3 separate regions of the Homo sapiens genome follow, and all the other regions are linked to region 1. Evidence: fine-mapped expression QTL. A gene starts in region 1. Each other region holds a variant in brackets. All regions are shown on one strand. Distances are between the middles of the regions. Region 1 holds the start of FAM107A (family with sequence similarity 107 member A). Region 2 overlaps FAM3D-AS1 (FAM3D antisense RNA 1). Region 3 overlaps LOC105377109 (a long non-coding RNA gene).

Region 1 (9,960 bases):
GGGAGGCTGAAGCCATTCAGACTTGCATTCGAATGTCAGCTCTGTCCATGCCTCCCTACCCTCTGGAGCTGGAGCCTGGAAACTACAGCCTTTGGACCAAATCCCACAGCCCTGGGACACACCACGCCCACTTATTGTCTATGGCTGTTTCCCACTGAACAGCAGAGTTGAGATGGGACAGCTGCTTTTGATCTGGTGTTTCCTCCTCTGCAAAATGAGCGTTACATTAGAATCCTCCTCCATGAACTTGTGATATCATAAACGAGGTGATACTTGCAAGGTGCTTGGCAAATGCCTCGTACAGAGTTGAGCGCTTGGGGCTGGCTACCAGGGCTGCCACATACAACAGGCTGGTTGGGTACCTCACAGCAAGTCCTCAACTCCTATAGATTAAACTGTGAATGGTGCCCCTGGAATGGCAGTGTGACCACCCTGTTAGCTGCTATTAACAATCACTATTAATAAATCCCATTCCTAGTCCTAGATGGAGCCTTCTCATCCTCAGAAACCACACTGGTTAAATCAGTGGATCTTAACTTTGGCTGCATATCGGCATCACCACAGGAAGTTTCAAAAATTCCAGTGCCTGAGTCCCACCACAGGGATTCTGATTTAATGGGTTTGGGGGGCGGCTTGGCTTTGGGGATTTTTAAAAGCTCCCTAGGTGATTCCTAGAGTCAGCCAACTTTGCAAACCATGGAGTTAAAAACCCAAAACACAAACTTATTTGCTTCGGTCCTGAAGGATCTCAGCTGACTGTAGTTGGCCTGGTTATTGTGAGCAAATCTGATTAAGGTCACAGTTCTTAGCAGCTGTGTGATCTTGGGATGGTCTCTAACCTCTGGGATGCTCCTCTGTAGAATTGTGATGCTGTGAAGATTGGATGAGCTAAAGAGCTGGGCATGGGGTGGAGGCCACCAGTAGGCGACAGCTATTGAGTGTCTTGCATGACTATAGGATGGCAAATAATTCTCAATATGCAGTTTATGGGACTGATGTTGTTTTTCCTGGGGTGGGGATAATAAGGGGTCTGAGGAAAGATTTGGAACCCCTTGCTTGGTTCCTCCCTGGTTCTGTTGGTGACCCAAGAGGTCCCAGAGCTCCTTGCCACAGGCTCCACAGGATGTTGGCCCCACACCAGGCAAGGCTCAGCAGAGATCACTGCTGCTCCCACGGAGAGTGCACCGGGCCACTGGGGCATGCATGGCTAATGCAGGGTGGCAGATTTGAAACCAAACACTGGTGCCTGCAGCCACAGGAGAGAGTAAGGAGAGACAGAAGGAGAGCTGCACTGATGGAGTCTCGGGGCCCAGTTCGTCTTGACAATAGCCATGGGACCCCAGGCTGTCTAAGGCCTCAGTGTCCCTTCCACTTGCCTCTCCACTGTTCTGGTAGTCATGTTTCTGTCTTCGATGGCATCAGTTGTAACAAATGACACATAAGCCAGTAAAGCAATGGTTAAAGCAGATGTTTTAGTGGAGACAGAGTGGGTTTGATTCATGGTGGCAATCCTTCCCAGCTGTGTTACCTTGGGCAAGTAGCTTAACCTCTCTGAGCCTCTATACAGCAAGGATAACAGCCTATTCATGGAGCAGTTTGGAGGGTGAAGTGATACAATGGCATGATGTGCTTAGCCCAGCGCCTGGCAGAGTGATGCTCACCGAAGACAAACTATGGTACTTCTGTCCTGAAGAAACCCTGTGGTCACCACTAGAATTTGATCTGGATCTCTAAATCACCCTTGGAGGCAGCCAGTGGTACCCTGTTTTATAGATGAGAAAACTAAGGCTCAGAGAGGCCAAGCTACTTGTCTCGATACACAGAGAGTAAGCAGCAAAGCCAGGACCTTGGACGCCAAATTCAATGCTCTTTCTACCTCTCCACTGTCTTCAAGGTGCAAAATGTCTTTTAGTTGACAAAGCAGGGTTATGTCCCTTTTCTCTCTCTAGATAGTCAAGAAACCCCAATGAAGAGGCTGTGTGAGCCCATTTTATAGATAAGAACATGGAGGCCTGCTAACTTGAGGACTCCTAGCCTACGTGAAATGCAAACTCTCACTGGGGAGCCCCAGCCTGGCCCTAGCAGCTTTGGGCTTAAGCTAGAGTCCACGGGCCTGTCTGGCCTCAGGCTGGTCTCTGTTTAGGAGAGGACCAGCTGGTGGCCTTCCCTCCTGTGCCCCCACTTCCTCATTACTGTTCAAGCTGCTGGGTTCCGAACACATTCAGAACCCTCTTGGTTCAGCATTTAATGGGATGCCAGGGCAGAGGAGAAGAGAGGCTTTCAAAATAACGACTGGCAAAGGAAAAACAGGCATTCAGTAAAAGTGACAAGCACGGTCACTGGATTTCCTGACCCTTCTGGCTTTTTTCCTCTCCATGGGGAAAGTGCCTATTTGTATTTCACTGGCCAGCAGCCAAAGAACAGTGTATCTCGGAGCCACCTCCAGATCTCCCAGCAGCTTCTGGTCGATGCTCGGAAGCCCCCAGCAGAGCTGCTTGTCCATTTGGATGCAATGACTCAAGGCTGACTTCCTGAACATTTTGCCTCAGGTCCGTTGCAACTTCCTACCTCGGAAGGAGAATGTTGGGTGGACATTTAGGATTTTGAACCAATTAAATAGCAGAGTCCAGGGCTAGACATGGAGGATACTTAGCAAGGTTAGTGGACAGCATTGTGCAGTTGATCTGGAACAAGCATCAGCAGACCTGGAATCCCTGCTGGCTCATTAGTGGCATGATGTCAGCCACTTTACCTGGCAGATGCCTCTGCAGGGAAAATTCCAGCAGGTACTCACCACCAACAGAACTAAGAGGGCCACTCAGGATCTAAGCCACCCAGAGATGCAGGCGTGGGGGCTGCCTTGAAGCTCAAAGCTACTTGGGTTTGGTAGCAGTTTCAAAAAGTGACACACCCAATCCTACAGCTCTTGATTTCTGGCCCAATCTCAGACTTGCCTTGTATTGCAAAGTCCTAAAGCCAAATTCACCAGAAAGGCAGGCCCTTCACACGTTAACCTGCGTGCACTATGTGCCATGCACTGTGCTAAGCACCTAGCAGCCATATCTCATGAAATATGAAATTCTTACGACAGACTGAAGAGGTGGGTACTGTTATTATCCTCTTTTTACAGTCAAGGAAACTGAAGTTCAGGGAAGTCATCTGATTTCCCCAAATCACACAGCCGGTGAAGGAAAGAGCTTGAATCTGAGCCAAACTCTGAAGCTGAAATCTGTGTTCTGTCTGTTGTGCTGAGAATTAAACCCCCATACTGTGTGATAATTGACTTAGGTGAGGCTATATCATGCATTAATTCAGATTCACCTGAGGATGCAGCAGAAAAAGATCAACAAGAATGCAGGGCTATGCCAGGGGGCTCGCTTCTTTGTCTCCTACCCTTTTCCGAAACCCAGGGTGCCTGGAGGCATCTCCCGTATCATTTTATGGATGCTGGGACATAGCCCGGGTACCTAAACTCAAAGCACTCAGGTCCACTGACAGCCCACTTCAGTGTACCGGGTCTGCCCTCCTTCCCTTCCACCTCCTCCCGAACGGCACCGCTCTCAACAGCAGATGAAACAGAACAGAGATGGTCTTACTTCTCAGGTCGAGTCCTTGGGAAGGGAAGTCAGGAGCGTGTTGCTGGGTTCCTCACTCCACCGGGAAGTCCCAGACTAGCAAGGAGGGCTGCCTCTAGAGGGCGGTTCTTAAACCCCTGGGAACGGAGGCTGCTGAAATGTGCCAACAAGTGAGACAGCCTTTGCATTCCTGTTTATTCTGGTATCAATAAAAAGGAACTGTTACTATAGTAACAGATATTCCACTTGGTGCACGGCCACTTCCACGATGCGGAACATCATGTCCAAGCCACACGCTTGAGAGGCACAAATAAATACCCATTTTGTCAGATTGATGAGGAATAAGAAACACGCCAAGCTTTGTTCTGAGCAAGGCGGCTCACGTAAAGGAATTTCCCTTGTTTCTTATGGGAGGGTCAGGCAAGAGTGGATTCCAGCACTTCCCCATGGGAGGGGAAGCCAAGCTTCCTGAGGCAGTGGTGTGGATTCTTCAGGAGAAAATGGCTCTGGGGGGAAAAGGGTGGGGTGTAAAGGGAGGGGAAACTGCTCAGCATTGGGTCAGTTCTTAATTATCCACGAATGGGTCAGAAACTCCGTACACAGCGTTTTCCTGATACCTTGAATGTCATTGGAACTTCACAGAGGAGCCAACGGAAGAGCGTGGGAGAGGGGATGCACCGTGTCTGGGTCTCAGCAGGCTCATGTGTTGGCCCTGGCTCCAGCACCAGCCCCTTCAGCAGCCACTCAGTGTCTCTGTGTCTTGGTTTCTGTGTTTGTCAAATGTGGAGCATACCAGGGTGGTTGGGAGATGACATGGATGAGATGACATTAGTGAAGCACATAGTCAAAGCTCAGCATATAGGACTTTTCTCCAAGAGAGACCTGGACTCTACGTGATCTGAGGCCAGAGCCCAGCATGGTGCATTTTGCCTGGCAGAATATGTGTTCCATAAGTAGTGGCTCAATGAATGAACATGTGAATGTAAAATATAAAAGTAGGCCAGGCATGGTAGCTCATGCCTGTAATCCCAGCACTTTGGGAGGCTGAGGTAGGCAGATCATTTGAGGTCAGAAGTTTGAGAACAGCCTGGCCAACATGGTAAAACCCTGTCTCTACTAAAAATACAAAAATTAGCCAGGGGTGGTGGCACACACCTGTAATCCCAGCTACCTGGGAGGCTGAGGCAGGAGAATTGCTTGAACTTGGGAGGCAGAGTTTGCAGTGAGCCAAGATTGGGCCACTGCACTCCAGCCTGGGTGACAGAGCAAGACTGTCTCAAAAAAACCCAAAAAACAAACAAACAAAAAAACCCAAGAAAAGTAAAAAATGTATGTAGATCCTTAAGGCCAGCCTGGATGCTTATAGATAATGGAGGCATTCTCCTAATTTCAGAATCAGCTTTCACTTGAAAAGCTGGAAGTGTTTTCTATCGTTTAGTGTCATCCTAGTTCCCCAGTGAGGAAGCTGGGGTCTACCAGTTAGACCAGGCCTCCACCCCAACTTTACTTTCTCATGGAGTCTTGGTTGGCTAGAAGGTGATGAGGCCTAGGACATGCATCACAGGTGAATGGAGGCTTTAACAAGGCAACCTTGTGTCTTCTTTGGCCTATATTATTTGTTCATTTAACAAACATTTATTTAATTCCTACTGTGTTCCTGGCACTGTTCTAAGTGCTGGGGGTACCATGTGAATGACACAGGTAATATCCCTGCTGTCAGGGAACCTACCTTCAAGGGGGACACACAGTAAAGAAGGGGACATTCAGGATGACGTCAGGCAGTGAGGAATGCCGTGATGAACGCAAGGCTGGGTGAGGTGAGAGCGGGTGGTGTTTTAGGGTAGCAGAATCACAAGGAGTCAGTTGTGTGAAGTCTGTACACATGGGAGAGTCTTCGTAGGGTGGGAAGAGCCAGTGGAAAGGCCCAGACTGGGTGGATCCTGGTGTGATGTAAAGGCAGGCTGGGTGCCATCTTGGGAGTGAGGGAGGTGGGAGACAGGGGTGGAGTGGGAGGGACAGGGCAGGCATGTCCAGGGAGTCTTGGCCACGCTGACCATTCTCGAGCCACTTAAACTAAGAGGGTCCTAAATTCTTGGGTATAAAACAATTTTCTGGAAACAATGTGTGGTCCCTTTTTTTCTTCTTCCCCAATTCTGCATTTCTTGAGGCACTATGAATGGTAGCCCCCTCAGCCTCCCACCCTGCTCTGCCTTAACTTCCCCAAACTCTCCTGGTAGAAGAGGACAGCTAGATTCTTGTCAAACCACTCTTTGCTGACCCTGGTTCCTTGCACACATCCTCCTGCTCTGCAAAGAAGTATTTTGAATATTTCCTAGGGTCTTTGGTGGCTCAGATGAACCAATCCCAGTGCCTTCTAACAGTTGGAGAGTAAGAAGGATCCTGGAGCGGGGGAACTTCTGACAGCTCCTGCTCATCCCCGGAGAAGACAGAAGCCCATCACCTGGTACACTTCAGAGGAACACGCACCTGACAGCCAAGGAGAACTGGGCAGTAGTCCTCGGATGTTGGGCGTCATTTTCCGTGGGCAGTTGGGAGTCACTGTGCTTCTCCCACAAAAACTCTTCTCACAGTCCAACTTGTATACAAACCCATCAGACTGCTAGCCCCAGGGCAGGTACCTACCTATCTTCCTGTCCCAGTACTGAGGGGCTCAATAACTATTGTTAACCTGAAGACACCGAAAACCTTGACAGCGCTGAGCTTGTTACAGCACCATCTTGCTGTGTGTCCATGTGCAGGTGCAACTGTACGTGAGATCAGCGGCCAACCACCACCCTTTCCCAGGCCACACTCCATCAGCAAGAGACTATGCTACACCCCAAGACGAGATGCAGCCAATAAACATGTCTATGTATTGACCTGAAAAAGATGTCTTCTACATATTCAATGAAAAATCATATGTAGTAGGATCTCTTTTTTTTTTCAAGATAAAAAAGTTGGTATATGTATAAAGAACTAGTGTGGAGGCAAATACACTAATCTGTTAGCAGAGGTCAACTCTAGATCAGTGTATCTCAAATACTATTACTAGATGTCATTTGAAATGAGTGCTAAAAATGCTCTTGCTTTTTTTTTTTCCTAGGGAGGAACCTAGGAATCTGGATTTTTTTTTTTTTTTTTTTTTTGAGACAGAGCATTACTCTGTTACCTAGGCTGAATGCAGTGGTGCCATAATGGCTCACTGCAGCCTTGACCTCCTGGGATCAAGCGAGCCTCCCACCTCAGTCTCCCAAGTAGCTGAGACTACAGACACATGCCACCACACCCAGCTAATTTTTTATTTTTTTTAGAAATGAGATCTCACTGTGTTGCCCAGGCTGGTCTTGAACTCTTGGCCTCAAGTGTTCCTCCTGCTTCAGCCTCCCAAAGTGCTAGGATCACAGGAATGAAGCCACCATGGAATCTGGATTTTAAACATACCTCTCTGGGGGCTCATTTATATTAAAGAGTTTGAGGACCATTGTTCTACAGCGTAAAATTACAGGCCCTTCTCCTTTGTCACTGCATTTCTGTGATGTTTGCGGTGTTAAAAGAAAAAAAAAGGCCCTAGCATATATTACTTTTGTTATCAGAAAAAGACTCTAAGAATTAAAAATGTGAGAAAGAGCAACATTTCCCAAACAACTGTAGTTAGTTAGGAATCACATCTGGCTCAGTTATGTCATCAGAATATGGGAAAACAGAGGCCCTCTGAACAAACAAGCCTTTGAGGCGTTTACTCCAGGTAATTGCATAATTCAAGCCACAGTCGCTGTCTCCTGCCTCCTTCTGTGTGGCTTTCCCTGGAGGTCTTCCTATTCTTCCAAAAGGAAGGACTCTGGGAAGCCAGGGGCCTGGGGATCTGCATACTTGCTCGGCCCCCTGGTGAGCTGGGGCATCAAAGGGGGAAGCCCAGGGGCTGGGCACACCCCTCCTGTCTTCCCTCCCATCCCCTTTTAACTCTGATTTCTTGGGAACCAGAGGAACCCAAAGGAAGGGGGACAGGGAAGACCAGGGGAGGCAGTCCTGACAGGGAGGTGGAGAATTTTCCTGCATCTATAGTGGGCTGGGCTGCAGTGTGCAGAAAATAACCTCCCCAAACAGCTTTTGTTTCATTTTTGCCCCCTTTCTCCAAGCCCATGGGCGCCTAGAACAGCTTATCTGGGCCCACGAACATCAAACAAGAAGTTTCCATGGCAACTTAAAACTTCCTCCTCAGCCCTGTATTCAGTCTAAATCTCCAAGGCCCCTTTTCAAGGCCTCAATGGGGTTTCTGAGCAGCCACCCACAAAACAGCCCTAGGATTAAACCGTGCCCCCCGCCTCTCAAACATGCTCTGCAGAAAGGACTCGGGGGTTGGGGGAGAAGAAGCTGTGCTGGCAGAAAGAACCTGTCATGGGATCTGTGGAGAGATTATAAAAGGAATGAGAGTCGCCTTTACAACAAGTTTGAACCGGGAAGAATTTACCCAGTTGAGGGATTTCAAGCGTGAAAATGGGAAAGTGAGAGGGGGTGGGGAAGAACTTAGAGTCTTGTTTCTGAAAGCTGGCTCTCCACCCAGCTGCAATTAGACATGGTTAATTTGGTCTCTTAGCTGCAGAAGGACCCTGGGGTACCCCCATCCCCAGTACATTTTAATTCCCTTGTAATCAGACAAGAAGCACAGTGAGTGAATCTATGGATGGTGAGAGGATGTGAGAGGGAGCATGTGTGTGTGTGCGTGTGTGTGTCTGTTTCTCTGTGTGTGTGTGTATGTGTGCGCGCATGCATGCAGGAGAACCTGGGCAGACCACAGCTGTCAAACTGAGCAAACTTCATGATTCCTGGCAGCATAGTTGCTAGATGTACCAAATAAAAATGTCACACATCGAAGTTAAATTTGAATTTCTAATGAGCACCAAATAACTTTTTAGTATAGTCCATGACATAGCTGGAACATGCTTACACTAAAATATGATTTGTTGTTTCTCTGAAATTCAGATGGAACTGAGTGCCCTGTATTTTATCTGGCAGCCCTACCTGGCAGAGGCAGGGGTGGAGGCTGCGTCTGCCCCTCTGGCTGCGGAGAAGAAGTATAGTTGCTGATGCCCGCAGGCACCTGGGGAGGTGCCTTTTTGTCCATAGTGCAGAGAGATGCTTTCCTCCCTTCCAGGAACATGACCTGAGCTCCAGGTAGGATGCAGGTTAACGCCCCTCAAGTGGACTTGAACTACTGGACTGTATTGCCTCCCAGGCATGGCCAAACAGGAGTTATTCCACAGAGGTGACCCTTCTAGCCCTGTGATTGAGAGCATGGACTCTGGTGCCAACCCGGACCACAATCCTGACTCCATTGCTGGACAACTGGGTGACCTTCAACTCTCTGTTTCCTCCTCCCTAAAATGGGGCAGACGTGTTTTTGAGGAACAAAGGAGATATGTTCTGGAGAGCCCTTCACACCGTGGCTGCCATGGAGTCAGGGCTCTGTAAGTGGCAACTATTATTTTGATAACTCACTTAAGAGCATTCAAGTTTGTTTGTTTGTTTGTTTGAGACAGAGTCTTGCTCTGTTGCCAGGCTGGAGGGCAGTGGCACGATTTCGGCTCACTGCGACCTCTGCCTCCCGGGTTCAAGTGATTCTCCCACCTCAGCCTCCCGAGTAGCTGGCATTACAGGCACCTGCCATCACGCCTAGCTAATTTTTGTATTTTTGGTAGAGATGGGGTTTCACTATGTTGGCCAGGCTGGTCTCGAACACCTGACCTCAAGTGATCCACCTGCCTTGGCCTCGCAGAGCGTTGGGATTACAGGCGTGAGCCACTGTGCCCGGCCGAGCATTCAAGATTTTCATCCAACTGAAAAAAGTGGAATTAAAGACTAGAGTCAGAACAGTCTCAACAGTGTAAAACACACACACACTATGCATAGCAAGGTTTGGAAGGAGGCATTTCCAAATGTTATGTGTGGCCGCCCGTGGTTAGTGGGATTATGTGTTAGGCCTCCTCCTCTTTAGTCTCAATTTCTCGAAATATCTATGGTGAGCATGTCTTACTCTAATATTAAGAAATTATTTTAGCCGGGTGCGGTGGCTCATGCCTGTAATCCCAGCACTTTGGGAGGCCAAGGCGGGTGGATGACCTCAGGTCAGGAGTTCGAGACCAGCCTGACCAACATGGTGAAACCCTGTCTCTATTAAAAATACAAAATTAGCCGGGCGTGGTGGCGGGAGCCTGTAATTCCAGCTACTCAGGAGGCTGAGGCAGGAGAGTTGCTTGAACTCGGGAGCCAGAGGTTGCAGTGAGCTGAGATCCCGCCATTGCACTCCACCCTGGGCAACAAGAGCAAAACTCTGTCAAAAAAAAAAAAAATTATTTTGAAATACCTTGGGATAAACGTTTTTCTTTTT
Region 2 (9,960 bases), 49 kb after region 1:
GTGGGCAGAGTCAGGGTGATGGGATGGCATGCTGTGAGCGCCTCCTGATGAGGTCCTCACACGTCACTGAGCTGGGCGCAATGAGCTGGAATCCTCTGCTGGGCTTGGCGGCCCTGAGCACCAGGCAGGCCCATCCATCATCGGCAGGGAAAATTGTTCAGGGAGCCAGCAGGGCCCAGCCAGATGTGTACCTTCTGGGCTCTGATAGAATGAACACACCCTTTCAGGCCATTCATCAAATTTAGCCATAGTGCTTCTATTTTTTTCCCCTTTTGTTTCAGTCAAGGCAACTTTCTCTTAATGAAGGTGAATGCAAAGCGATGAGTGTCTTGGTAAACAACAGGGTCAGAGGACAGGACTCTTTCAGGGCCACAAAAAACCTGGGTGGTGTTGGGTTTGGAGAAATGTTTTACAGAACGAAAGCCAAGTGTCCAAACCTCCAGGGGGCTATGCTGCCGCCTCCTGCCCTGCAGAAGCTCCACCTGCAGCCTCTAGAGCAGCAGCAACAGGACCACGTGCCATTCCCTGAGCACCCACTGAGTGCTGGGCACCTCGCCCCAGCCTGCTGTGGAAGGTAAATCATCATGCTGCTTGACAGCTGAGGAAACTGAGGCTCAGAGGGGTTAAATGAGATGCCCCGACAGGGGCTCCAGGTGGGATGTGAGCACTGTTGTGTTTCCACCTTCAGAAGCGCCGGCAGTGGGGTTTGCTGTTTGAGAGGCCAGGCTCTTAGGGCAGCCTGGGTCAAATGTTAACTCCACCCTTACTAGCTGGGTGACCCTGAGCCTCTTGCTTAACCTCTCCACGTCTCTGGATTTCTGGGTGATAAAACTCTCCATGTCCAAGAGCTGTTTGAAGACTAAATGAGCGAATTGGTGCAGAAGCGGCAGTGCATGCGAGCTGTGCTCAGGAACATTTTCCATTTAGCAGCCCCTTTAAGGGTGGCATTACGGTCACAGCCTGGGGAGCTGGACTTGTGCAGGGCAGCCTCTGGAAGCTTGTGGTTGTGTCCTCTATCCTGGGCGAGGGCACTGGCCACTGCTGATTGGGGTGGAGGACGGCGTGCCCACACTCTGTTGGTGTCTATGAACTGGCTGGTGTCTGAGGCCCATGGAAGGTGCTTTTCTTGAACCCACTGCTGCCGCAGGACCTGTGGCCTTGCTGTGTAATGCAAGGGCTTAAAACGTGGCTCCCATCCAGACATCTGGGTTGAACTCACCTCTCTGGCATCAATGCATGCCCAGTGGGTCAAATGTTGAAGTTTCTGGAATGTTCCAAACAGTGTTAGAGGGATTGCTTCTGTGTGTTAAAATATCTTCTTGCAAAAACCCTGATAGAGGCCAGGGTACCCACCTTGGTGCCCTTGATAGGGGCAGATTTAAAAAAATGCCAAGTCCAAGGGAAGTTCAGGCCCTGCCTAAGAAGAACAGAAACAACAATGTCTGTGTTTTGACTCCTGGCCCAGTGGTCTATCTGTCACACCCTCGACCCTTTCAGTGTTCTTCCATTCTCTCTGCCCACCCCACAGCTGGAGAGAACGCTGTCTCTCCTCCTGGGGGGCCATTACAATGAAATGTCCAGCACTCTCCCTTCCATTGAGTAACAGCCATGCCATTGGGAGACAGATCTGTGGCTCCAAGGGTGGGCTCTGGTTGGCCTTAACCAACCACGTGATCCCTTCCATCCCCTGCCAGTGTGGGTTTAGGATTCTAGGCAAAGCCTATGCCCCTGACATTCCCCAGGGGACAAAGGTGAGTTCACCTAAAAGCAAAGTCCAGACCTTGCCTAAGAGGAATAGAAGCAACAACGCTGTGTTTTGACTCCTGGCCCAGGGGTCATGTGCCCAGTCACCTCTGCTTCAACTTTCACACATACTACCAACTATTTTTTGCCTGCCTATTAGTCTCTGCAACTGACAGGGACGGCCTCAAGGGCAGGGGCTGTGTCTCCTCACCCTTGGCTCCAGCTCCACATAGGCCCTGGCATAGGGCAGCAGGTGCCTGCCTGATCAACAGCCTTCTGTGGGAGGTTGGGGTGGGGCTGAGGAAGATGCTGTGGACAGAGCTATGGACCAGGAAGGGTGGGATGGGCTGGGTTGTTTGGAGTCAAGCAGAATGGGGTCAAAATCCTACCCAATAAAAATGAGAAATAAAAATAAAACTTTAAACAAACCCCACCCCTCCACTCTGGCAAGTGACTGAACGGACCCCCTCTTGGCCAAGGAGACCCCAGAGAAATCTTGAAAACCGGGTTTCTGGCCATGACGGGATGGGAGGTCGCACGTGCCCCGTAGTGTGCCATCCCTTGATAACCTCCGTTATCCTAATTCCCTAAGAGCTAAACAGAAACAGGCCTTTTCAAAAGACTCCATGCTGATTTCAACCAACTGCCCCTCCCTTTTGTGGTTTTAACACAAAAACCAACCAGCATTCTTTCTTGATAAGAGATCACCAATCATGGAGCGGTTCTAGCCAGTCTGCAGAGGATGCACAGTGAGGGTTTTCGTGCTCCCTGCTTCACCTTTGACATCAGAGGGCTGAAAACTCCACCCTCAGATCACACTAAGGCCAACATTTTTTTGTACCTGGGGCCTGTAAGAGGCATGAAGCTCAACTGTGCATGTAGATGTTTCTCCTTTCATAAATATTCATGACCCCTCCCACAGCTTATTGAATATGTATATTTGGCCATGCTGCTCAGCATAAATTTCTACTCCCTTTGCCTCTTCCTCAAAGTGTCAGTTTCTGGATTCTGGCCAGAGGCCATGCTTCCCAGCCTCTCGGAATGGCCACCCTGCAGGCTGCAACCCTTTATGAGAAATAAAGCTCCTCTTTCCAAATTAACAACAATAGCAGTACCCTGCTCTTTCCCCCACTAGCTGCATGACCCTGGCTAAGAAATTACTTCTTCCTTGAGTTTCTCAACCTTGATGGAACAGGTCATCACTGGTTGTCTGAGGATCAGAGTCCCATGTTTATCGGGGAGCCTCTGGGCTTGGGGTAGCACACTGAGCACTTCACAGGCATCATCTTGTTGAACTTCCCACGAAGCAGGTACCAGCCCCCCTTTATAAACAAGAACCTGAGGTCCAGAGGGGTTCAGGTCATCGCCACGGTAGGTGGGTGGTGGATCTGGGACACGGCAGCCTGTCTATGCCACTGGGATGGCAGTACCGGGTCGTTGTGGTTGGAGAGCAGTGAGCACGTAGGACAATCCCGAGAGCTGGTGAGTAAATGCAGGCCCCTCTTTGCCCCTAAGAGGCTGATCCAGGAGGTCTGATGGGCCATGAGAAAGTGACTGTTTCACAAGCTCCCTCCTACTCCCCACCCCAGGATGCTGACGCAGGGGTCCGCAGAGCACATTTCCAGAAACAGTTCTCAGGCAATGCTGTCTACAAACCCCCAGCTGAGAGCTCAGGCTTAGAAGGTGAGGGATAATAACATGAATAGAATTCTAATAATAATGGAGCAAAGCCTCTACACAGTGCCAGGCAGTGTTCCAAACACTTTCACTCATTTAATTTTCACAATGATTTTCCAAGGTAGTGATTATTATTGGCCCTATTTTACAGGTGAGGAAATAAGGTACAGAAAGCTTAAATAACTTGCCTATTGCCCTACAACTGGTAACAGCTGGTTAGCTAACTTTATAATAATAATTTTAAGATCTTTCCCCTGTATCCACCTGCATCAGACACTCTCCTGGGGTATGGGGAAGGGGTACCCAGGGAGCTTTTATTCAGGGAAGTAGAGATGTGTGTGGTTAAGACCAGGGAGCCAGAGAGATTTGGCTGCCCCCGAGTCTGTCCTAGAGATGGAGAGATAGGACACTGGTTCTTCCCTGAGCCCTTGCCTGCTTTCTAGATGCAAGTCTTGGCTGTGAGTTCCAGGGGGAGGGCTGGTGGGCACTGCCGGCTGAAGCTGCAGGGTAGGTGGGTCGGGGCTCCCACTTGCTAGGTCCAGTCTCCCTTCCCATGACCAGGGCCCCAACAGGACACTTAGAGGTTCCTACCTTCTTCCCCTGGGCTGCTCCCATGGCACGAAGTGGGCACCAGGCCTGGGTGGGCTGCAGGGGCCAGGCTGGGGTCCTCCCTGCTGGCGTTGATCTCAGGAGCCAGGACCCAAGGGGCTCCCGGGGCGAGGGCCCCCTGTCCTCTTGCGGCTCATTCTCCCAGGCACAAAGGCGGCTTTCACAGCTGCTCCTAAGCCCGGAGCGCCTCAGACAGGCTTAGGGCGATTGATCCTGACAGAGGGGCCAGTGTCCCCAGGCGGCTTCTATGCCCTTCTTGGGTCCCTGCAGCTCCTCACCTCCCAGAACCCTGCCTCTCTCAGGAAGGGAAACTGAGGCAGCTGGGAAATGAGGGAAGACGTGGGGCAGTCCTCTCATCACACACCGGTAGCTCAGGCGCGGCGGGTGACCTCTGCCTGGCCCAGCGGGCAGGACTTGGCCTTCTCACCTTGCTGGGCACCACTCAGCCGACAGGGCCAGACGGTGGAGGCCGTGGGCTGGCTGAGGTGCAGAGCTCTGGGAGGGCTGCGTGCGGATGTCAGCTTCAGCTGGACAGCCCCATTAATAATAGACCTTTGAAGATGCTTGGGGTCCGGGGCTCTCCCACAGCAGATACTCTGAGAGCAGACTCCTTCATTCAACTGGGCAGCAGGCTGCCTGGAAGGGCTGGAGGGCTGCTGGTCTGGGCCCAGGCCAAGAAAATATCTGAAGGCCAGATTCCAGGCCTGGGGCCAAGTTCTCAAAGTGCCCCCGGCAGTCACTCTCCTCCTCATTTGCCAGCCCTGTCCTTCTCCGTGATGCCAGCTTGTGGCAGAGGTTAAGGCTAAAGAGACCTTGGGCTTGAACTGTAGCTCTGTCCCTGATAGTTGTGTGGCCTTGGGGGCACGATGTTGTGTGTGTGTGTGTGTGTGTGTGTGTGTGTGTTTGTGAAGCACTCATACTGCAGAGCTAAATGGGGTAAGGTGTGTGTGTACAGCTGAAGCCATCGTTTTGCGAAAGCATAAATCAGAGCATGTTGCTCTGTTTTATCTGTCACTTCACCAAAGGTGGGGTAAGAGTTGCCCCCACTGCATGGGGCTGTGGGGATGTGCAGAGCATCTGGTGAACAACAATTCCTCAGAGAAGTTAGGTGCCACTGCTATCATGCTGCTAATAACACAAATGATATCCACTGCCCAGTGGAAAGTCCCGAATAACCAGTTCACTAAGCACAACACCGTTTCCCAAGAGGTGGGGGGGTTGGGGAGACCTTGCCACCCTTTCCTTTCCTCTAGCACGATGCCTGGCACACAGTAGGTGCCTGCAACACATACACAGATGACTTACGGAATGGCAGCTGGTGGAGGGTCAAGAATTAGGCATTCTAGATCCAGCCTTGCCAACAGAACCAAACACCCCATGGTCTGCAAGGTCTGATTGACTGTCTTGCTAGGACCTCATTTCCCTCTCCTCCCTCTCCCTGGTAGTTTCTGGGTCACAGCACCTTTCCCCCCTTCTCAG[G/A]GCCTTTGCACTTGCTATTCTCTCTGCGTGGAATGTTCTCTCCCCCACTTCCCCTCCACTGCCCATATTTTGATCTTTGCCTGATTCTATCCTTTTTGTCCTTCAGGCTCCTCAGAGAAGCTTTCTCTGTTGCCTTGTGCAAAGCAGTTCCCAGGCTCTCTGTTTATTACTTTGTTGTAGCACTCATCAGCAACTGAAATGATATGACTTCGGTGTTTATTGTCCGTCTCCTCTGCCATTCCTCTGGAATGGCAGTTCCACAAAGACCAGGGCCTGGTCTGTCCTGCTCCTCAGTTTACCCCGAGTCTAGAGCAATATTAGTGGAAGAATCCATGATGGAGGATTAAATGAAATAGTCTAAGTAGGTCGAGTGCTTAACACAGTCCTGACTCATCGAAAGTGCTCGCTTCATGGCACTGCTTAATACTGTTGTTATTGTTACTGTATTTCCTCCGATACCCATGACCCTTCCAGCCAAGCAAACATGTAGCTTCTTCCTTCCGCCCCTTCCCTTGGGTTCAGCCTCTGCCTTCCTCGGCTGCTCCCCACTCCTTTTCTCCCTGTTCCAGTCGTGGCCTGATTACAGTTTCGGATTTCCTGCAGAAAGGAGAGAGTCCACAAAATTGTAAAGGGAAATGACTAAATTGGCCTTCAGATGGAGCAGTAAAAATGCTGTAAGTCAACACGGAAGATCAAACTCCTTTGGCAACCATCCCATAATTATCCACCAGCTTGACTCTTGGTGGGGTGGGAGGAAAGAAAATGATTCTTACGCATTTATTAATGTTTTCCATCTGTTTGGAGCCCTGCCGAAATGTGGCTTAGTGCTGCAGTGAAAGCCTGGTTGACAGAGCCTGTGATTGGGCTCTGAAGTCCAGGCCCTGGCAGGATGATGGCCCAAAATGCAACATTCAGGCCACATGGCATGGGCAGGAGGAATGGGGGTGGAGGCCCCAGAGCCCAGCACTATGCCTGGCGCAGAGGATGTACTTGGAATACGTGAACAGATGATTTATGAGGTGACAGCTGGTGGTGGAGGACCAAGGAGCAGGTGTTCTAGATCCATCTTTGCCCTGTCTCACTCTGTGGCTGGGCACATCCCTTAGACTCTCTTTCTCCATCTAAAACATGAGAGTAAACATGTGTTCCTTCTTGACCCACAACCTTATAGAAGGAAGTAAGGCTTACGAAGTGTGAGGGGGGCTTTGGGTTTTAAAAAGAGGAGTTCTAAATCCCTTGAACCCAGTTCCTCTCCATCTCTTCCAAAGCAATGAAGGCAGGTGTTGAGAATGCTAACTCTGAGGTTCTGTGCAATCTTCAAAAGTCTTCAGAGGCATTCAGGAGCAGGGCAGGAGGGGGAGGAGAAAAAGGGGAAGTGGGGAAGAGAGGAGGAGAAGGAGGATGGGAGAAACTCTGTTTACCTGAGAGTAGGTTTAGGGCAAACATATCTGTTTCGTGTAATGTTGGGGACAGACTGGAATTCCAGCCCTTATTCTGAGACTCCTTATCTATGTGACTTTGGACAAGTCACTTGACCTCTCTGAGCCTCATCTTCCTTCTGTGTAAAACAGGATGACAATGGTTCCCACCCCGTGGACGAGGGGGCTATGAGGATGAAATGAGGTAATTCATGTAAAGCTCTGAGCAGAACGTCTGGAGAACTGCAATTCTCTGTAGAAGTGAGGTGCTGCAATTGTTACACTATCAGCAAGGCCGAAGATAAGTCCAGTGCCCATTGGGAAGTCCCAGATAATGAGTTCATTAGGCGCAACAGCCTTTCCCGAATTGGGTGTGTGGGGAGACCTTGCCACCCTTCCCTTTCTAGCTTGTGCCGCCACCTACTGGTGAAGACAAGAATTACAGCTTCTGGAAAGCTCTCTCCACGACCCCACCCCTCACAGCCCCATCCTCACTCCTGGGATGGGTGGGAGGCACATTGGCAGGGAGTGGGGAGGCAAATCCAAGCCCCCAGTTCTGAGGCCACGATTAGCTTGCAGAGATTCCTGAAGGCTTGTCGACCCCAGTGAGAAAATGTGTCCCAAGTCTTATCCATTTCACTTTCTGATGATCCCTGGGACAGGCCCCTGGTCCGGGCCACCACCCTCTATTCCTGGATGATATGGCAGCCTCCTCACTGGCCTCCCTTCCTCCACTCCTTCCCACAGCAGCAAGGAATTTTCAAAACATGCAGCTCTGGTCACCTTGCCCCCAGCTTAAATCTCCCAGTGTGTCCCCTGCCCTGGGACAAAGTCCAAGCCCTCTGCCCAGCTCACAAGGCCCCTCGGGCTCTGACCTCCCACTCAGCCCTGTTACCCATCCTCTGCCCCTTCCAGGCCTTGTTCATGCTGTTCCCTGGCCTGACATGCCCTTCCCTCCCTTCTTTGCCTGGTGAGCTCCTACACACTCCTGAGGGCTCAGCATGGGTGCTGCTTTCTCCAGGATGCCTTCCTGGATCCCCCAAGGCTGGGGCAGCGGTCCTGCAGTCTTTCCCCTTGCCAAGCCATGTCGCCTCTGGATTTGTATCCCCTGCTAGACTGAGTGGGAACGGTGCTGGGTTTTCTTCACTGCAGCATCCCCAAGCCTGCCGGACTCTTGATGCATATCAGGTTTGCTGAGTGATGAAAATCTTGGCGATAAAGACCCAACTCTTTACAGCTTGAGCTGACCTGGGGGTCCCTATAGTGGCCACAATGTCCTGAAAATGACGTTGAGAGTCTGACAGGTGTTTGCCACTTTTGTAACACCCACCCAAGAGGGGCCTAGTGTGGCTGGCTCGAGAATGCAGTCTCCTTGATGGGTTATGGGGGTACAATGATGGCTACTTGGGCTTATCTTCTGACTTATTCTGGGCATCTGAGGAAGGAGTGGGAAGCTGGAGTGGGGCATGATCCCTAATCTTTGCCTTGTGTTCCCTGGTGTGGAACAGCACGTTGCCTCTTCCATGGGCTCCACATGGCAGTGGCAAGTGCAGCTCCCCCACTCTGAGCTCTTTCTCCTTGAGAACTGATCCCTTTTATGACAACAATTCCTGCAGACCTGGAGGTCTTATCTCCCAGCCCAGGCTCAGGCTCAGTCCCATCCAGCTGGCCATGCCCACCACCTCTCTTAGGATGGGTACCCCAGGATCCCACTTCGGGATAGGGATTGTCGTGTAGGTGATTTGTTAAGGACTGGCCCCTGGGGACACTGGTAAGGGAGTGGAGGAGCAGGATGGGAAAGGGGAAAGAGGTAAGCAAAGGGACACTTTCAGGCAAAGTCCCAGTTCCCGCCTGATCCCTCTGGGAATCCTGGAGTGTAAATTGCACCTCGTGGTCGTCATCATGCCCCAAAATAAAGAGCTGGCCTTTCACGTTCCCATACCTGCCAGTCATTAGCTAAGGACCATCCTGGGGTGGTGTACACACCCCCAGCTTCCTGGTCTGTCTTCTTTGCACTTGTGCTCAAAGAATGTATGAGTAGCCCAAGGGCAATTCTCCAAAGAAGAGTTCAGACTGACCATTAGTAACAAAATCTGGGAAAGGGCACCTGGGACGCTTCCCTGAATTCTCTGATTGAGCCAGTTGACATGTTCTCAGTCTTCTTTGAAGTGTTGTGCAGTGCAGTTTCTGGAAAAGTCCATGTGTCTTCTCTTCAATGAGGCAGCTACCCCATGTCTTAAAATAGTGGCCACTGCCAAGAGCCCTCTGCCTAGCCCTGGTCCCTGCTCATGAGCTCATTTTAGAGGTCTTTATATGTTCTTTAAAAATTTTACAAGGTACTCCTGCTTGTTGTAAAGTGAAATTTCCGAGCTCTCAAAGGTGTTTATGGTCATCATGAAAATTTCATGCCACCTTCATTCCCAGAGCAGGTTTCTGGGCAGATGTTTTTCCAGGTAGTCTACTGATGTGGTTGGAAGTGGTTATTCAGGCCTGCCAGCATGCTCCCGCTTTCATCCGTGAGGGTGAGCTGGGGTGGGTTGGGCAGGGAGTGACAGAATTGACAGGATGTCTGGATGGGCACCTTCTGACTTCCTCAGCCAACCCTGAGCACGGCTCCCCGCCGGCTCTTTGAATTTTTTTTTTTTTTTTTTAGATGGAGTCTCGCTCTGTCACCCAGGCTGGAGTGCAGTGGTGCAATCTCGGCTCACTGCAATCCCCGCCTCCCAGGTTCAAGCGATTCTCCTGCCTCAGCCTCCCAAGTAGCTGGGATTACAGGTCAGTGCCACCATACCTGGCTAACTTTTATATGTCGGCCAGGCTGGTCTTAAACTCCTTGCCTCAGTTGATCCGCCCACCTCGGCCTCCCAAAGTGCTGGGGTTATAGGCGTGAGCCACCGCACCTGGCCTGGACCTTGATTTTGATATCACTGCAATTGTAGCCCGTGTCCCACCTGCCGTGGCCCCTGGTGGAAGGTTCACACACACTATTGTCTCTACCCCAGGCTATCTTGGCACATTTGAAGTGCTCCCTGGC
Region 3 (9,960 bases), 99 kb after region 1:
GTGAATGCACAGGAGTACACAGATGTGAGTGGCTGTATAGGCTGTATTTGACCTTCTGGGTGCCCAAAGACAGAAGAGTTGGCTCACCGATGGGATAAATGACCGTTGCATCGATTTTTCTAGTTCTAATCTTTGAGAAGAAACTAGACCAGGCAGTAATTTATTTACATTCCCTTCAGCATTTTTCACAGCAGCCACAAGCCTTGATAACAAAAGGAAGCCAGGTGCGCTCTGAAGCCAAGGGAGAAAGTCACAGAGCATGACTGCGCCAAGTGCTTCAGCAAGAAACTACCAACAATTTAGTTTCCCTCACCTCGGTAATTGACCACATCCAATGTGGCCACGTGTGCCTCATGGCCTGATTGGCTTTGTAATAAAGTCAGTGCCTTGGTGTAAGAGACGAAGTTGAGGATAGCATACTGAGTTACAAATTTCCCTTGCAACCATTAATAATTCATTCTTCCATTCATTTCTTTAATGCTACTGCCGTTCCTTTGAACAACAGCAATAACAAGCCATGAAATAGAAGCCTTTCCATCGGTGCTGAGGACTGGAGTGGGCGGTGGGCACAGGTGCTCCTGCACTCAGAGGCCTTGCTCACTGGTCACCAGCCACTCTGTCCACAGTCTGTCTCCAACTGTGGGTGGGCAGAGGTGTAGGGTGGCTGAGTCAGGTCCCAGTCTGATGGGTCTCACTGAGCTAAAACCAAGGTGTCACAGGGCTACATTCCTTTCTGGGGGCTCCTGGGAAAGCTCATTTCCTTGCTTCTTCTAGTATCTAGAGGCCACCCACTCTCCTTGGCTCATGGCTCCTTCCCCATCTTCGAAGCCAGTGAGGTTGCATCTTTATGGCCCTTCTTCCATTGTACCATCTCCCTGACGCTCATCCTTTTGCCTCCCTCCCTCTTTCACCTTATTTTTATTTTTAGAGATGGGGTCTTGCTATGTTGCCCAGGTTGGTCTTGAACTCTTGAACTCAAGCAATCCTCCTGCCTCAGCCTCCTGAGTACCTAGGACTACTGGTGTGAACCTTATGCCTGGCTCTTCTTTCACTTTAAAGGAGCTTTGTGACTACATTGGGGCCCCCAATAATCCAGGACATTCTCCCAATTTTTTTTTTTAAATCATACTTTAAGTTCTGGGATACATGTGCAGAATGTGCAGATTTGTTACATAGGTATACATGTGCCATGGTGGTTTGCTGCACTCATCAACCCATCATCTACATTAGGTATTTGTCCTAATGCTATCCCTCCCCTAGCCCCTCATCCCCCGACAGGGCCCGGTGTGTGTTGTTTCCCTCCCTGTGTCCGTGTGTTCTCATTGTTCAACTCCCACTTATGAATGAGAACATGCGGTGTTTGGTTTTCTGTTCCTGTGTTAGTTTGCTGAGAATGATCGTTTCCAGCTTCATCCATGTCCCTGTAAAGGACATGAACTCATCTCTTTTTATGGCTGTGTAGTATATGTGCCACATTTTCTTTATCCAGTCTATCATTGATGGGCATTTGGGTTGGTTCCAAGTCTTTGCTATTGTGAATAGTGCTGCAATAAACATACGTGTGCATGTGTCTTTATAGTAGAATAATTTGTAATCCTTTGGGTTATACCCAGTGATGGGATTGCTGGGTCAAATGGTATTTCTGGTTCTAGATCCTTGAGGAATCGCCACACTGTCCTCCACAATAGTTGAACTAATTTACACTCCTACCAACAGTGTAAAAGCATTCCTGTTTCTCCACATCCTCTCCAGCATCTATTGTTGCCTGACTTTTTAGTGATCGCCATTCTAACTGGCATGAGATGGTATCTCATTGTGGTTTTGATTTGCATTTCTCTAATGACCAGTGATGATGAGCTTTGTATTCTGTCTGTTGGACACATAAATGTCTTCTTTTGAGAAGTGTCTGTTTATATCCTTTGCCCACTTTTTGATGGGGTTATTTTTTTCTTGTAAATTTGTTTAAGTTCCTTGTTGATTCTGGATGTTAGCCCTTTGTCAGATGGATAGATTGTAAAAATTTTCTCCCATTCTGTAGGTTGCCTGTTCACTCTGATGATAGTTTCTTTTGCTGTGCAGAAGCTCTTTAGTTTAATTAGATCCCATTTGTCAATTTTGCTATTGTTGCAATTGCTTTTGGTGTTTTAGTCATGAAGTCTTTACCTATGCCTATGTCCTGAATGGTATCATCTAGGGTTTTTATGGTTTTAGGTCTTATGTTTAAGTCTTTAATCCATCTTGAGTTAATTTTTGTATAAGATGTAAGGAAGGGGTCCAGTTTCAGTTTTCTGCATATGGCTATCCAGTTTTCCCAACACCATTTATTAAATAGGGAATCCTTTCCCCATTGCTTGTTTTTGTAAGGTTTGTCAAAGGTCAGATGGTTGTAGACGTGTGGCATTATTTCTGAGGCCTCTGTTCTGTTCCATTGGTCTATATATCTGTTTTGGTACCAGTACCATGCTGTTTTGGTTACTGTACCCTTGTAGCATAAATTGAAGTCAGGTAGCGTGATGCCTCTAGACTTTGTTCTTTTTGCTTAGGATTGTCTTGGCTATACAGGCTCTTTTTTGGTTCCATATGAAATTTAAAGTAGTTTTTTCTAATTCTGTGAAGAAAGTCAATGGTAGCTTGATGGGGATAGTATTGAATCTATAAATTACTTTGGACAGTATGGCCATTTGCATGATATTGATTCTTTCTATTCATGAGCATGGAATGTTTTTCCATTTGCTTGTGTCCTCTATTATTTTCTTGAGTAGTGGTTTGTAGTTCTCCTTGAAGAGGTCCTTCACCTCCTCAATTTCAGAACTTGCTATTGCTCTATTCAGGGATTTGACTTCTTCCTGGTTTAGTGTTGGGAGGGTGTATGTGTCCAGGAATTTATTCATTTCTTCTAGATTTTCTAGTTTATTTGCATAGAGGTGTTTATAGTATTCTCTGATGGTAGTTTGTATTTTTGTGGGATCAGTTGTGATACCCCCTTTATCATTTTTTATTGTGTCTATCTGATCCTTCTCTCTTTTCTTCTTTATTAGTCTGGCTAGCAGTCTATCTATTTTGTTAATCTTTAAAAAAAAAAACCAGCTCCAGGATTCATTGATTTTTTGAAGGTTTTTTTGTGTCTCTATCCCCTTCAGTTCTGCTCTGATCTTAGTTATTTCTTATCTTCTGCTAGCTTTTGAATTTGTTTGCCCTTGCTTCTCTAGTTCTTTTAATTGTGATGTTAGGGTGTCGATTTTAGATCTTTCCAACTTTCTCCTTTGGGCATTTAGGCTATAAATTTCCCCCTAAACACTGCTTTAGCTGTGTCCCAGAGATTCTGGTATATTCTGCCTTTGTTCTCATTGGTTTCAAATAACTTACTCATTTCTGCCTTAATTTCGTTATTTACCCAGTAGTCATTCAGGAGCAGGTTGTTCAGTTTCCATGTAGTTGTGGGGTTTTTAGTGAGTTTCTTAATCCTGAGTTCTAATTTGATTGCACTGTGGTCTGAGAGACTGTTTGTTATGATTTCTCTTCTTTTGCATTTGCTGAGGAGTGTTTTACTTCCAATTATGTGGTCAATTTTAGAATAAGTGCAATGCGGTGCCGAGAAGAATGTATATTCTGTTGATTTCGGATGGAAAGTTCTGTAGATGTCTATTAGGTCTGCTTTGTCCAAAGCTGAGTTCAAGTCCTGAATATCCTTGTTAATTTTCTGTGTTATTGATCTGTCTAATATTGACAGTGGGGTGTTAAAGTCTCCCACTATTATTGTGTGGGAGTCTAAGTCTCTTTGTAGGTCTCTAAGAACCTGCTTTATGAATCTGGTTGCTCCTGTATTGGGTGTATATATATTTGGGATAGTTAGCTCTTTTTATTGCGTTGATCCCTTTACCATTATGTAATGCCCTTCTTTGTCTTTTTTGATCTTTGTGGTTTAAAGTCTGTTTTATCAGAGACTAAGATTGCAACGCCTAATTTTTTTTTCTTTCCATTTGCTTGGTAAATCTTCCTCCACCCTTTAATTTTGAGCCTGTGTGTCTTTGCATGTGAGATGGGTCTCCTAAATACAGCACACTGATGGGTCTTGACTCTTTATCCCATTTGCTAGTCTGTGTCTTTTAATTGGGGCATTTAGCCCTTATTATTTAAGGTTAATATTGTTATGTGTGAATTTGATCCTGTCGTTATGATGCTAGCTGGTTATTTTGCCTGTTGGTTTATGCAGCTACTTCATAGTGTCGATGGTCTTTACAATTTGGTATGTTTTTGCAGTGGCTGGTACCAGTTTTTTTTTTTTTTTTCCATATTTAGTGCTTCTTTCAGGAGCTCTTGTAAAACAGGCCTGGTGGTGACAAAATCTCTCAGCAGTTGCTTGTCTGTAAAGGATTTTATTTCTCCTTTGCTTATGAAGCTTAGTTTGGCTGGATATGAAATTCTGGGTTGAAAATTCTTTTCTTTAAAAATGTTGAATATTGGCCCCCACTCTCTTCTGGCTTTTAGGGTTTCTGCAGAGAGATCCACTGTTAGTCTGATGGGCTTCCCTTTGTGTGTAACCCGACCTTTATCTCTGGCTGCCCTTATAATTTTTTCTTTCATTTCAACCTTGGTGAATCTGATGATTATGTGTCTTGGGGTTGCTCTTCTCGAGGAGTATCTTTGTGGTGTTCTCTGTGTTTCCTGAATTTGAATGTTGACCTGTCTTGCTAGGTTGGGGAAGTTCTCCTGGATAATATCCTGAAGAGTGTTTTCCAACTTGGTTCCATTCTCCCTGTCACTTTCAGGTACACCAATCAATCAGGTTTGTTTTCTTCACATAGTCCCATATTTTTTGAAGGCTTTATTCGTTCGTTTTCATTCTTTTTTCTTTAATCTTGTCTTCACGTTTTATTTCATTAAGATGATTTTCAATCTCTGATATCCTTTCTTCTGCTTGATCGATTCAGCTATTGATACTTGCATATGCTGACGAAGTTCTCATGCTGTGTTTTTCAGCTCCATCAGGTCATTATGTTCTTCTCTAAACTGGTTATTCTAGTTAGCCATTCCTCTAACCTTTTTTCAAGGTTCTTAGCTTCCTTGCATTGGGTTAGAA[C/G]ATGCTCCTTTAGCTCGGAGTAGTTTGTTATTACCCACCTTCTCAAGCCTACTTCTGTCAATTTGTCAAACTCCTTCTCCCTCCAGTTTTGATTCCTTGCTGGAGAGGAGCTGTGATCCTTTGGAGGAGAAGAGGCATTCTGGTTTTTGGAATTTTCAGCCTTTTGCACTGGTTTTTCTTCATCTTCATGAATTTATCTACCTTTGGTCTTCAATGTTCGTGACCTTTGGATGGGGTTTTTGTGTGGACGTCCTTTTTGTTGATGTTGATGCTATTCCTTTCTGTTTGTTAGTTTTCCTTTTAACAGTCCGGCCCTTCTGCTACATGTCTGCAGAAGTTTGCTGGAGGTCCACTCCAGACCCTGTTTGCCTGGGTATCACCAGTGGAGGCTGCAGAACAGTAAAGATTGCTGCCTGTTCCTTCCTCTGGAAGCTGTGTCTCAGAGGGGCACCTGCCAAATGCCAGCGGGAGCCCTCCTGTATGAGGTGTCTGTTGACCCCTGCTGGGAGGTTTCTCCCAGTCAGGAGGCACAGGGGTCAGGGGCCCACTTGAGGAGGCAGTCTGTCCCTTAGCAGAGCTCGAGCACTGTGCTGGGAGATCCGCTGCTCTCTTCAGAGCTGGCAGGCAGGAACGTTTAAGTCTGCTGAAGCTGTGCCCACAGCCACCCCTTCCCCCAGGTGCTCTGTCCCAGGGAGATGGGAGTTTTATCTATAAGCCCCTGACTGGGGCTGCTGCCTTTCTTTCAGAGATGCCATGCCTGGAGAGGAGGAATCTAGACAGGAAGTCTGGCTACAGCAGCTTTGCTGAGCTGCGGTGGGCTCCGTCCAGTTTGAACTTCCCCTTTGTTTACACTGTGAGGGGAAAACTGCCTACTCAAGTCTCAATAATGGCAGATGCCCTTCCCCCCACCAAGCTCGAGCATCCCAGGTCGACTTCAGACTGCTGTGCTGGCAGCGAGAATTTCAAACCAGTGGATCTTAGCTTGCTGGCCTCCATGGGGGTAGGATCCACTGAGTAGACCACTTGGCTCCCTGGCTTCATCCCCCTTTCCAGGGGAGTGAATGGTTATGTCTCACTGGCATTCTGGGCACCACTGGGGTATGGATAAAAAAACTGCATCTAGCTCAGTGTCTGCCCAAATGGCCGCCCAGTTTTTTGCTTGAAACCCAGGGCCCTGGTGGCATGGGCATCCAAGGGAATCTCCTGGTTTGCAGGTTTTGAAGACCATGGGAAAAGCGTAGTATCTGGGCCGGAATGCACTGTTCCTCACGGCACGGTCCCTCACGGCTTCCCCTTGGCTAGGGGAGGGAGTTCCCTGATCCCTTGTGCTTCCCGGGTGAGGTGACACCCTACCCTGCTTCAGCTCACCCTCTGTGGGCTGCATCCACTGTGTAACCAGTCCTAATGAGATAAGCCGGGTACCTCAGTTGGAAATGCAGAAATCACCCGCCTTCTGTGTTGATCTTGCTGGGAGCTGCAGACTGGAGCTGTTCCTACTCAGCCGTCTTGCCCAGGTTCCCCCCATTCTCCCAATTTTAAGGTGAGCTGATCAGCAACCTTAATTTTACCTGCAATCTTAATTCTCCTTTGCCATGTAACCTATTCATAATATTTGAAGTGGGAAAATCACTTCAAATGTTTTAAGAATTATGAAAATAATACTTGTTTATGGTAAAATATTCAGAACAGTGCAGAGCTATATGAAATATCTATTTAAATGCTCATCTTTACTCACTCTTGAAGATGAACCACTATTCATAATTTCTAAGTATTTTTCTAGAATTTTCTATGCATTCACAAGCATATATATGTCCTTCTCTCTGGTTCTTTGTCTTTCCCTTTCTGTTTTTCTCTGTTTCTCTCTCCCTTTTTCCTTGCTAGCCAAGCAGCCATACATCAGCTGGCATGAATTTTACTCTCTGCCATGGGTATAAGAAATATCATATTTCTTTATATTTCTAAATCAGGTTAAATTTCACTCCAACCCTCCACTTGTCAGCGTGGTGAGAACTTCAGTATCTACCATAATTTAACTTCAGTGCCAACCATAAATTCCGGAGTTTCTCTCATCCTTCTTAAGGCTGCCAAAAAATGGGGGTGTGGGGGCTTAGTGATGTTATGGAAATAGGATCGGATGTCTCCTTTTCTTTCCACATAGTCACGCATTTTAAAATAGTATCCTGGGAATGGTTCTGATGAAAACAATGTAAATAAACAAACCCACATAGAGACGAAAGACTGCAAGAGATGCAGCAAACTGCCAAATGGCTGTTTCCTGGAGGAGGTGTTTTGGCGATTTTAACTTTCTCCTTGATACTACTCTCTCTGTTCTACAGGTAACAGATGTAACTTTGGAATCATCATAATAAAGTTCAGGATAAGTACTCTATGTGGCTTCTCCACCTGCCTTTCCTTTCGGCTGAGTGTTTGCCCAACTTCCCAGGGGCAAACCCTCCTCGGGCATGGGCACAGGTTTAACAACGCTGGGAAATCCTCAGGATGTGAACCAGAGGCAGCTCCTACTGTGTCATCACTGCCTTCCTAGGTTTAAGGAAGTGTCTGGGTGGGGCAGGGATTTAGAGATCCTGGAAGGAAGCCTTTATGGACACCTCATAGCTTTTTTTATTGGGGTTTACAGCTGTTGTCCTTTTATTCAAAGAGGGAGTACTCACCCTCCCTGGCTTCCAGGCAGCTGGGCTGGCTGGAATTTGCCCTCTTGTCCTGGCTTCTCCAGTGACTTAGGGGAGGCAGAGGCCCCACTGAGGTAGGTGACCTGGAATTTCCCTCCTAGGAGCCAGGCTCTGAGTGGGTGGGCCAGCCAGGCATGTGGGCTGGTGGGTCTTCTCCCAGGGGCAGCCTGAGGGTGGGAGCAGCTCAGAGAACGCAGACATTGAGCACATCTGGGGACCAAAAGGACCCCTGGGAATTTCCTTTTGCAGGTTGTGCACAGGCAGCTTTGGAGTGGGGCAGGGAAGGCCGCTGCTCTGGTATAACCAAGCCTTATGGCATTCCTCGGTCCAGCTGTTCATCGACAAATGCTTAATGAATACCTTCTCTGGGCCAGAAAGCAGGCTGGGGTCTGTGGATATGAGGAAAAGCAAGAGGAGACCCACTTCCTGGTACAATCTGGGGTGGACACCATCAGAGGGATGCTGCCATTTGTTTCCTTTTGCCTGTCTTGCTTTTTTTTTTGGCTTTGTCTCCCATGCCTAAAATATAGTAGGAGCTCAATAAAAATGTGTGAAAAGAATGAAAAATGTGTTTCCTGCTAGTTGGAGTAATCAGTCCATCCCTAAAGAAATCTGAAAATCAAATGAAATGAAAGGATTTTATTTCTGATTCTCATAGATCATCGTCATCATTATCATCTCATCTTCATTGTCATCTCCATCATGATCATAGCTATGGGTGAGGCTCTTTTTTTCTTCATGCTTCCCTGTCATGCTCACATTTCATCATCACTAAGATGCCTGGGAGGAAGCCGGCCTCACCCATCACTTTAGCATGCATGTGGTCTGGTTGCCTGTGTTCAAATCCCGGCTCCTACACTGAGCAGCAGTGTGAGCTTGCTTGGGCAAGTCATTTTGTTTTTCTGAGCCCCGATGTCCTCTGTAAAATGAGGCTGTTAAGAGAGATGCCCCATCGGGTTGTTGTGAGGATGAAATGAGAAGATGCAGATCCAGTGTGCAGCAGGAAGCCTGGCTCAGCAGGGACTGCTTCCGCCCTTTTAGCCGCTGTCTTTCCCTGTGCTCTCCTTGACTTCACTGCCCTCCTCCTTTGCAAGAGGTCCTGACGCTGAGGGAGGGCTTGCTGCCTCAGGGGTGGGGCCCACATCTCTAGGGCTGTGGAGGGTGCTGGAACCAGGACTCAGACATGGAGCAGCAAAGGGAACACTGTGACTGATACTGTTCTCCAAATGCCTCCTTCCTCATTCAAATCCAAGGAGGCCCAGCGTGGGGCTGGGTGACCAGACCAGGGACAGGGTGATGTCGAGGACCAGTGTCTCACCACATCCTCCTAACATCATTGAGAGCAGAACCCAGGTCAGAAATCACCCCATTCAGACCCTTTCAGTGTGAGCGAGAAACCATGCCCCTCCACTCCTGCAGGACTTTGTGGGTACCCTGAGGCTTGCTCTTGACTCACTGATTGTCCTCTACCTGTCTCCACCAGTGCTGGGCTGATAAATGTTTGTCAATTAACTCTCCAGAGAAAAAAATGTATACTTGTCTGTACATACATAAATGGGTTATGTTTTACTGGTATTGAGGTTGTGTAGCAAACACATACCTTGAAATTTAAATAATAATAAGATATATAATACCCACTGTAAATTCCACACAGCCAATTGGCCTACAGCATACTTTCACTCATTTTTGCCAGCTTCTTGAATTAGCCAACCTGTAGTTGCAATTTAACCATGATTTGACAAAAGTAGACTGTGAATATATGGTTGCTTAGTTTCCCATTTAGCGAAGAGGTCTCTCAGGTCATCAAATGAATGAGTGTAGTTTTGTCATGAACATTGGTTGATGTTTTCATTTATATTAATGAATAAGATGAAAGTGAAACAATGAAGACACAGTCAATACTCCACTCAATCACAGTGACATGAATGACTTCTTTGCTGAATCAGATAACAGTTTTTGAATACTGGAAGAACATTTCCTTTTTTTTCCATTCACAACGTAATGGCCACAGACAGCCCATACCTTAATGTTTAATCTGCATTATTAACATTTTCTCTATCCTTTCTTAAGCCTAGGGTTTAGACAATCAACAGAACAAAAAATCAAGCTCCAATTTATAGTGTTTGTCAATTTCCATGATGTAAATGCACACGCTATGACTAATTTCAAGCTACCACTGTGAAATCACTA

Evidence for each region.
Region 2: its variant is fine-mapped to the expression of FAM107A in testis (GTEx, PIP above 0.99).
Region 3: its variant is fine-mapped to the expression of FAM107A in visceral fat (GTEx, PIP 0.99).

What each region holds. Positions count from the first base shown.
Region 1 is chr3:58,573,713-58,583,672 of GRCh38, forward strand. FAM107A (family with sequence similarity 107 member A) reads right to left here and starts at 3,679. Exons shown (of 4, transcript NM_001076778.3): 1 at 3,597-3,679. It overlaps LOC107984079 (a long non-coding RNA gene), which reads left to right. Exons shown (of 3, transcript XR_001740724.2): 3 at 5,912-6,463.
Region 2 is chr3:58,622,960-58,632,919 of GRCh38, forward strand. It overlaps FAM3D-AS1 (FAM3D antisense RNA 1), which reads left to right. Exons shown (of 4, transcript NR_134853.1): 3 at 9,580-9,701. It also overlaps a transcript of FAM107A not described here. Among named protein-coding and RNA genes, the nearest start is that of FAM3D-AS1, 21 kb to the left of the region's middle. RefSeq lists an enhancer at 5,899-6,400. The variant G/A (reference allele first, on the strand shown) is at 5,509.
Region 3 is chr3:58,672,462-58,682,421 of GRCh38, forward strand. The region is part of intron 2 of LOC105377109 (a long non-coding RNA gene); the gene reads left to right. Among named protein-coding and RNA genes, the nearest start is that of FAM3D, 11 kb to the left of the region's middle. The variant C/G (reference allele first, on the strand shown) is at 5,081.